Homo sapiens: one gene and its partner. The gene in region 1 interacts genetically with each later gene. Each region holds a gene or a part of one and is shown on either strand. Other genes may lie near its edges.

Region 1 (7,046 bases):
TTTTAATATAACCCACTATATAATAGTGAACTAAATATGTTTGTTTCATAGAAACAACTTACATTTGCCAATATAAGGCAAATGGTCTATGTACAGATACATCAGGACTGCCTAACTGACAGTGAGTGTTGCTAGCCAGGCTCCAAGCTAATGGAGCTAATACGGTGGAGCTCTCTGCTGAATGGACTTTCCCTTCAGGATACGTCGGATCTGGAAGAGAAACAAATAAAATTTGTGAGGTTTATTTCTTATGGCCAATGTGGTGTATTTCCTTCTGAGTTTCATTCCTTTCTTATACCATCTACACTACTCCTATTAACTTGTAAGTATACGAAGAAATACACACAATATTTCTCAAGATTTTGAGGTGACTTTTAAAAATACTAAACTCCTTTTAAACTTATTTCAGATCTCTTATAATAATCTTTGAGTTCAAGAAAGTAAAACATCTCCACTAAAAATTATCTGAAGTTGAAAATCTCCATAAACTTAACACCTATATTCTTTTCCTAATCTTTACTCTTGCTATTTGTGAGAACATTTAACATAAGACAGTAATTAAGGCATATTATAATATCTCACTTATCTTGAAGTCAGCCTCAACTAACAGGAACAGAAAACCCACATTTTATGATACACACACAAGTAAATCCTTAATACCATTCAAGTCAAAACAGCTGTCATGATATCCAAGTATTAAAGCATCTACACGTAACTTCATGGATCACAGAAAAGATCCCGGCTCATTCAGAGTGATTCATTTTACATCCCAGTCTGACAAATTTTATTTTCTATCTCTCAGCCTCCAGCAGATTAGAAGCAACAATTTAGATGAAAGGCGATTGGGGTAGGGGATACAACTGATAGCTGCTAGAAGGAAACACACGACCACAGTATGACAATAAAAGCCAGGGAAAAGAGCCTCTACCTGCCCAACACACACAAAATACCAAAGCAAAAAGGAGATAATCTGGGAACATTTAATGAAGAGTTAAATGGCTTAATATCTCAATGATCCCTGAGAGCATAGTTATATGACTGCACACCACAAACAGTGAAGTAGAAGCAAATACTGGGCTTAGGACTCTGCCTTTTACAAGTTAATGATGGTTCTGGTCCTTGGAACCTCTCTGAATATCAATTTTCTCAGTTGAAACTTGAAACTTGTAAAGTTCTTCTAACTATTAAATGATATACATGAAAACTTTTTACAAACTATAGAAATATTCTTTCTAAATTACAAAGAGCTCTATAAATAGGGGCTACTATAACATTATGGTCATAATGACAGCTCAGAATCAAAGAAAAAGCTAAACTGCATTCCACGTATTTTATTTTGTGATTAGTAAAGTATGTAATGACCTACCCACAGCCACAATCCCCCTCATTCCTCCCAGGAAAAGAGTTCCATCAAAAACATTTTAAGTTCTTGAAAGAATAAGTTCTTGTTATCTAAAAAGTTTACTCATGAAACTATTCAATACTCAATGATAATATATAACCATATTTGATGAGTAAAGCATTAAATATGCTGTTTAAAACAAAATATTTCTAGGTTTGAAATTACATAAGTAATTTTTCCATTTTTTGTTCAGTATCACTTCATAGACAGAAATAATTCTAACTATTGATGTTCACTGATCTCTTACTCTGTACCCGGGACTATTGTGAGCACTCCACATGTAACAACTCATTTAATATCCACAATATTTGAAGGCTCATACATTACAAGACTAAGATTCTCTTTCCTTGGTATCTGCAGGAACCTTGGTATCTTCTCTTTCCGAACCTTAAACCATTCTGACTTACTCTAACCCTAAGTGTGTGTCACAGAATACTACCTGACCTCTAACCATTTTGAGTCTATGGATAATCCCTCAAATTTCTTAATTGCTGTTTCCAAACGAAGAGTAACTCCACAATGCTATGACAGCTACCGTGAGACACAGACACTGATAGAGTCCACCTGAAGAGCAACAGCTGGCCTTCGCCCTGCACAGCCTCATCTCCCTTTCTGTTTCAGACTGCAGTGCCAAAAAATACTTCCTCTCCCTCCTGTGCCTCTCACCTGTTCTCCCACAGGGCCATCGGGAACCAAATGCACTGGCTGTTCGTTCTCCAAGTTCCGAGTACTTGGGTCTGCTCCCTTCCTCATCAACAGGCGGACAGCATCTAATTGTGTCAACCGATACTGCAAGCTGGCAGCAACATGGAGGGCAGTGTTGCCATTGTAAGCCTGAAGACAAAGAAATGAATTATCAGACATCAGGAAGGGGGAAATTTCATGAAAGGAGCTCAAAAACTTTGAGAGGGTGTACAGAAGGCCATTCCAACTCTGGTGTACCTTTGCATTCACAAAAGACAGGCAACTGGGCAGCTCCAAAAAGAGGCGAATGAGTTCCAGATTTGCTTCTTCAGCTGCCAAATGCAGGGCTGTGCGGCCACTTTTGCGATCCTTGTCAAAGGCAAGAGGGAGGAAAAAAAAAAAAAAAAATCCAGATACTATGCCTCAGAATACACTTTTCACCCAGTCTCCTGAATGTCTGATTCAGCTTCAGAGACTCACTTTGAATGCTCCCTTCTCCAAAATGCCTTGCTTAATCCCAAGCTAAATGGAATCTTTTATTCCTCTTAAATTTCCTATTAATTTGTCTATATGCCTCTTGTCACAATGTACCTTTTTATACAGGGTGGCCATAAAATGTAGAAAAATAAATATTTTTAAATCCTATGTCATAACCTATCAGTAAACCATTTATTATGTATTCACCTACATTTCCAGATTTGGTAGCCTCCCTGTAGAGTTATATTTAGCTATATCTCTCACCTATTTTACTAGTCAGTAAGCCTCAAGGGTCCAAATGGTTTATGACTTAGGCATTTTTCCCCCATATACTCAGTGAATAAAACCAAAATTTTAAAAGAATAAACTATTTTCCAGCTTAAAAACCAGAAGATGAATTCCACATCCTACAACAATGAAGAAATCCTTACAAAAAGCACCTTTATTCTCAGTGTATGAAAATGGAAGCCAAAATGACAATATCAATTTCAAGCATTTTCTTTACCTTTCAAAGACTATTTATTTTATACCTAAATGACCTTTTGGATAATAATTCATGGATTTAAAGCAAATCAAGAAAACACATGAAATGATCTGTTAAAATCTGGGCTTCTTGGCCGGGCGCGGTGGCTCACGCCTGTAATCCCAGCACTTCGGGAGGCCGAGGCGGGCAGATCACGAGGTCAGGAGATCGAGACCATCCTGGCTAACATGGTGAAACCCCGTCTCTACTAAAAATACAAAAAATTAGCTGGGTGTGGTGGTAGGCACCTGTAGTCCCAGCTACTGGGCAGGCTGAGGCAGGAGAATCGCTTGAACCAGGGAGTCGGAGGTTGCAGTGAGCCAAGATCGCACCACTGCATTCCAGCCTGGGCGACACAGTGAGACTCTGTCTCAAAAAAAAAAAAAATTCTGGGCTTCTTAACCACCCATACATTGCTACTCACACCATTAATTTCAGAAAAAAAAGAAAGAAGTTTGAATCTGTACTTGGAAGCAAGGTCTTTTGCTATATAACCAGTTTCTCCCCTACCCCATCTTAAACCTTTTCTGTGAATTTACCTTCGCTTCCACCGCTGCTCCCATTTGAATTAGGCACTTAATGGTATCAACCAGACTCTTATTCTTCAGTAAAAGCTCCTGAACTTCAGGTGAATGAGGCTGTTGATTTCTCTGGAGTTCATGGACCACAGCATTGTGGGCTATGACTGCACAGTGAAGGGGAGTCAGGCCTAGAAGAAAAGTATAATCAAGCAGTGGTCAAGCATCCCATCAGGTCTTTTGGTCCTTCTATAATGACAAATGCTGAGGATGGCCTCTAACTTAACCTATAAATGGGCTCCACAAGAACTAGTAAGGCAATCTGAATATTGTCTCTTTTTGGGTCTAATTTTACCTACAGAATATTTTAGCTTTAATTACCTTCCTTCTTAGTATACTTAGCACCCTTAGACCTTATGGTTCCCCCTAAGTGGCTCTGAATCTAATAAAGTTTCAGTTGCTTACCATCATAGTTAGTTGCCTCAAGATCCACAAACTGATTACTTCCCACTGCTCCCTTCTGAATCGCCTGCAGATTTTAAAAACAGACATCTGTTAGCTACATAAGCTGCGCATATACCTATTAGAATCCCCAAGAAATGAATAAGTTAACTCAAAATAGATCATTGCAACAGGCAACCTATATCCGACTTCTAATATCCAACTCTATCTCTCTGGCCTTGCAATGATGGAAGCCTGGTTTGCTGCCTCTTACCTGAAGCACCTGGGAGTGGCCCTTCTCAGCACACACATGCAGAGGTGTTCTTCCCCAGCAGTCTGTGGTGTTCACCTGTGCCCCGATGTTCACCAGATCCTGCACAATGAGATGCTGATTGGCAGCCACTGCCACCTGAAAGGCACTCTGTGGATATCCAGAGGAAAAAAGATATTTTAAACATACAATGTTATCATAACAAGGAATATGAAACTAAACTATGACTGAGGGAAAAACCCACAGAGAGAAAATAAATCCTTTGAATAAGCAATCAGATACTGTAAGACAAGGAAACTAAAGTAAGCCTAGGGTGTGGCTTTATTACTCTCAGTGTTTGGTCAAACAGCTACAAAGTTAACATTAATAACTTCAAGGTTGATGGTAGCAAAAAGTCAACATCTCAAAGTTAATATTAACTAAACTCTCTTGATCTTGAGCTCTAAGATGATCTACACATAAGGCTGGTCATCATTCACTTCACCATGACCCCCTCTTTGCCATTTCAGACTCTGTCAAGGTCCTCACCTGTCCATTGTGCTCTTTAATATCCAGCATGTGAAGTGCATTCATCTTTCTTGCAAGAACATAGGAAAGTGCCCTTCTCCCTTGGGCAACAGCAATATGAAGGAACCTGGGGAACATGGAAAGGAAAGCGGGTGAATCACTTCTGATTTCACTAAGTTGTTCTTTTGAAAAAAAAAAAAAAATCTTCCTTTAGCCCCCTTTTTATATATTGGTACACTCAAATGAAACATTACAAAGCATAATTTGTCTTTTCTGCTACATTGATAATACACCCCAGTTGGAACAGGATGGGTTAGGCTATCAGAAATAAGAAAAAGAAGAATGTCAAGCACCATACTGATCAACTTAAATCTATTATTTTTAATACTCATAAAACCCCTATACAAGAGGTATTATCATTTTACACGTCAAGGAACTGAGACCTAAGGAGGTTAAATAACTTGCCCAAGGCCACAAAGACATCAGGACAGATTAAGATCAATCTACAAACCAACTCACAGTTTATCCCTAATCATGATCTAACTGTTTCTGTTCTATAGACATAGTCTACGCTGGTCTTCCAAACTCAATTAATCAAGAAGATACAGATATTTTTATCAATTTAGAACAGATTATCTGTTCAGCCAAAAAATTTTTTGAAGGAAAACCCTTTCTTGACATACTAGCTATCACTGAGTGGCGGTTTCTATCTACACCAGTCATCTTGGTTAGCCAACCACTAACTAAGGTATACCTTGTTATACCCTAGAAAAATTATATGCTCACTAGTCCAACAAGTGTGGCTTACCTAATTAAGAACATGAGATAAAAGAATACTCACGTGTCACCATCTGCATCCTTTGAAAGAAACTGGTCTTGGGAAATATTTGCCAATTTGCTTTCTTCCTGCTCCACCTGCCACTGAAAAAGTGATTTCCCTAACTGTGTGGTGTTCATTGGATTTCCCATGTTTGAGAATGGCAGTGAAGTGTTTGAAGAGTCAGAGGCCATCTCGTGCCCCACCATGGCCTCACAGGCGCTGCTGGGCATCATGCTGAAGCTGTGCAAGTGAGCATCATTTTGCTGCTGAACACTGGAGGAAGTCTGCATGGGATTAGCAATATTCTCAGATTCCCTTTGATCACCAAGAAGGGAAACTAAGCTTTGGTTTGGGCAAAACTGTGATTCTGGACCATCAAAGAGGTTTGGTTCATAAGCGGGGGACTGGGGAGGTATGGGAAAAGGACTGTATTCCAGAGTTGGTTTGTGGGTGTAGTGTGGCTGCTGCTCTACATGCTGGTTCTGTGGAGAATACTGGTACAGGGAAGCCTGGTCTATCATTTGTTGGGAGCCCCTGACTTGGAATGGTTGGCATTTCTGAGGTGGAGAAAAGACCTGCCCTCCATGGAAGTCCTGACACTGCTCTGCGGGGGAGCTCTGAGGGACCACCACGGGGTTCAGCCAGCTAACTTGAACTGTGTTCAGGGAAACGGGGCTGCATTCATTCTTAATGTTGATAATGTTCTGAAGCAGATCAGCACTGCTCTCCTGTTTGGGTTCATTGAGATGAACATCTTCCATGCTCTCCCCGGGCGTTGGTGTTTGAGGTGGTGTCTGGAAAGAAGGAAAATGCAACTTGCACACTCACTTCCTTCTAAAATTATCCCAGGAATAATTTCCAAAGGATAGTCAGAGGAAAATGGTGAGATACTTACCAAAAATTGGGAATGCAACAGAGCTGGCCTTTTGCAAGCAGGTCCATCAGACAACGAATCGGGCCCTTTCCTTTTCCCACTGTATGATACTGTGTTCTTCAATTCTGTACCCAAAGGAATACAGCCTCTGTCATCATTTTATTTTATAAATGTTACCCATAATTACACTCTATTATTTACTCCAAAGCCCTGAAAAAATTACAAATACAAGTAACTCTTACCTCTGAACTGTTCTATGTTCACACCTTGTGTCTATAAAGAAAAAAGTTTCCAATTTAGTGTATACAAAATGACTTCCTCTTAATATACATCAGTAAGTAGGCTTATCTCTACCACCCTTTATAGCTTACCATAAATCTCTGATATGGTTTTTCTATCAATATTGATTTTCTATATCAATTTTTATTCTATCTTGCGACTTCCTCATTTTCACTTTCACCTTAGCTCAACGCAGGTCAAGATGAAATTAATAAGACCATTTGATTTTTCCCTTTCTAGTTAAAATGTT
Region 2 (2,665 bases), on another chromosome or scaffold:
GGGGTGGCTAGAGGGAGAAAAAGGAAATGTCTTGTGTTGTTTTGTTCCCCTGCCCTCCTTTCTCAGCAGCTTTTTGTTATTGTTGTTGTTGTTCTTAGACAAGTGCCTCCTGGTGCCTGCGGCATCCTTCTGCCTGTTTCTGTAAGCAAATGCCACAGGCCACCTATAGCTACATACTCCTGGCATTGCACTTTTTAACCTTGCTGACATCCAAATAGAAGATAGGACTATCTAAGCCCTAGGTTTCTTTTTAAATTAAGAAATAATAACAATTAAAGGGCAAAAAACACTGTATCAGCATAGCCTTTCTGTATTTAAGAAACTTAAGCAGCCGGGCATGGTGGCTCACGCCTGTAATCCCAGCACTTTGGGAGGCCGAGGCGGATCATAAGGTCAGGAGATCAAGACCATCCTGGCTAACACGGTGAAACCCCGTCTCTACTAAAAGTACAAAAAATTAGCTGGGTGTGGTGGTGGGCGCCTGTAGTCCCAGCTACTCGGGAGGCTGAGGCAGGAGAATCGCTTGAACCTGAGAGGCGGAGGTTGCAGTGAGCCAAAATTGCACCACTGCACACTGCACTCCATCCTGGGCGACAGTCTGAGACTCTGTCTCAAAAAAAAAAAAAAAAAAAAGAAACTTCAGTTAACAGCCTCCTTGGTGCTTTAAGCATTCAGCTTCCTTCAGGCTGGTAATTTATATAATCCCTGAAACGGGCTTCAGGTCAAACCCTTAAGACATCTGAAGCTGCAACCTGGCCTTTGGTGTTGAAATAGGAAGGTTTAAGGAGAATCTAAGCATTTTAGACTTTTTTTTATAAATAGACTTATTTTCCTTTGTAATGTATTGGCCTTTTAGTGAGTAAGGCTGGGCAGAGGGTGCTTACAACCTTGACTCCCTTTCTCCCTGGACTTGATCTGCTGTTTCAGAGGCTAGGTTGTTTCTGTGGGTGCCTTATCAGGGCTGGGATACTTCTGATTCTGGCTTCCTTCCTGCCCCACCCTCCCGACCCCAGTCCCCCTGATCCTGCTAGAGGCATGTCTCCTTGCGTGTCTAAAGGTCCCTCATCCTGTTTGTTTTAGGAATCCTGGTCTCAGGACCTCATGGAAGAAGAGGGGGAGAGAGTTACAGGTTGGACATGATGCACACTATGGGGCCCCAGCGACGTGTCTGGTTGAGCTCAGGGAATATGGTTCTTAGCCAGTTTCTTGGTGATATCCAGTGGCACTTGTAATGGCGTCTTCATTCAGTTCATGCAGGGCAAAGGCTTACTGATAAACTTGAGTCTGCCCTCGTATGAGGGTGTATACCTGGCCTCCCTCTGAGGCTGGTGACTCCTCCCTGCTGGGGCCCCACAGGTGAGGCAGAACAGCTAGAGGGCCTCCCCGCCTGCCCGCCTTGGCTGGCTAGCTCGCCTCTCCTGTGCGTATGGGAACACCTAGCACGTGCTGGATGGGCTGCCTCTGACTCAGAGGCATGGCCGGATTTGGCAACTCAAAACCACCTTGCCTCAGCTGATCAGAGTTTCTGTGGAATTCTGTTTGTTAAATCAAATTAGCTGGTCTCTGAATTAAGGGGGAGACGACCTTCTCTAAGATGAACAGGGTTCGCCCCAGTCCTCCTGCCTGGAGACAGTTGATGTGTCATGCAGAGCTCTTACTTCTCCAGCAACACTCTTCAGTACATAATAAGCTTAACTGATAAACAGAATATTTAGAAAGGTGAGACTTGGGCTTACCATTGGGTTTAAATCATAGGGACCTAGGGCGAGGGTTCAGGGCTTCTCTGGAGCAGATATTGTCAAGTTCATGGCCTTAGGTAGCATGTATCTGGTCTTAACTCTGATTGTAGCAAAAGTTCTGAGAGGAGCTGAGCCCTGTTGTGGCCCATTAAAGAACAGGGTCCTCAGGCCCTGCCCGCTTCCTGTCCACTGCCCCCTCCCCATCCCCAGCCCAGCCGAGGGAATCCCGTGGGTTGCTTACCTACCTATAAGGTGGTTTATAAGCTGCTGTCCTGGCCACTGCATTCAAATTCCAATGTGTACTTCATAGTGTAAAAATTTATATTATTGTGAGGTTTTTTGTCTTTTTTTTTTTTTTTTTTTTTTGGTATATTGCTGTATCTACTTTAACTTCCAGAAATAAACGTTATATAGGAACCGTCTGATAGCATGGCAGCTCTGTTTGGCTGGTGGAGGCTTCCTTTTCCCCTGCATAAGTTCTGAGGGGGCCTCACACACAGGTGGGGCCTGGGATAAGGGCCGGAAAGGGTCTTGAGAGGAGGTGGTTGCCTTAATCCCCCCCGCCAACCCCCTTATGTTAGCCACCAGCCCGGAGGTAAGGGGTGCCTGGAGGAGCAGGAGGTCAATAGTCCAACGGCAGAAAGGTGTCAGAGTGGAGGCCTCCCTCCCCGGCCCCCTCCTACCCCCCAGAGCGGCCTCGTCCTGTCTGGGGTCAGATAAGCCACCTAAGCGGGGTGGGGGGTAGATACTCCCACCGCACCAAGGCCTCCCCTTCCACAGTTGGCTCCTTTATCACTTTCCCTTCAGTTCACCCAGCGGGGACAACACGCAGACACCCGGTGGTGGCTGCAGGGCCCCCGGCAGCCAGCGGTGATAATGCAGGGAAAGGCGCCCCAACCTCAGCTACGCGGGCGCCCACAGGGCTT

Evidence for each region.
Region 2: of NFKBIZ (region 1) and STAT3, changing one suppresses a phenotype caused by changing the other (phenotypic suppression), as found in Homo sapiens cells (one study listed by BioGRID).

Annotation. Positions count from the first base shown.
Region 1 is NC_000003.12:101,852,482-101,859,527, reverse strand, and holds part of NFKBIZ (NF-kappa-B inhibitor zeta), read right to left. Parts: intron 6,791-7,046; coding exon 6,760-6,790; intron 6,643-6,759; coding exon 6,539-6,642; intron 6,438-6,538; coding exon 5,665-6,437; intron 4,951-5,664; coding exon 4,845-4,950; intron 4,467-4,844; coding exon 4,320-4,466; intron 4,134-4,319; coding exon 4,070-4,133; intron 3,796-4,069; coding exon 3,626-3,795; intron 2,456-3,625; coding exon 2,345-2,455; intron 2,237-2,344; coding exon 2,069-2,236; intron 211-2,068; coding exon 157-210; 3' UTR 1-156. UniProt on the Homo sapiens protein: Involved in regulation of NF-kappa-B transcription factor complexes. Inhibits NF-kappa-B activity without affecting its nuclear translocation upon stimulation.
Region 2 is NC_000017.11:42,312,820-42,315,484, reverse strand, and holds the end of STAT3 (signal transducer and activator of transcription 3), read left to right. Parts: 3' UTR 1-2,161; downstream 2,162-2,665. UniProt on the Homo sapiens protein: Signal transducer and transcription activator that mediates cellular responses to interleukins, KITLG/SCF, LEP and other growth factors. Once activated, recruits coactivators, such as NCOA1 or MED1, to the promoter region of the target gene.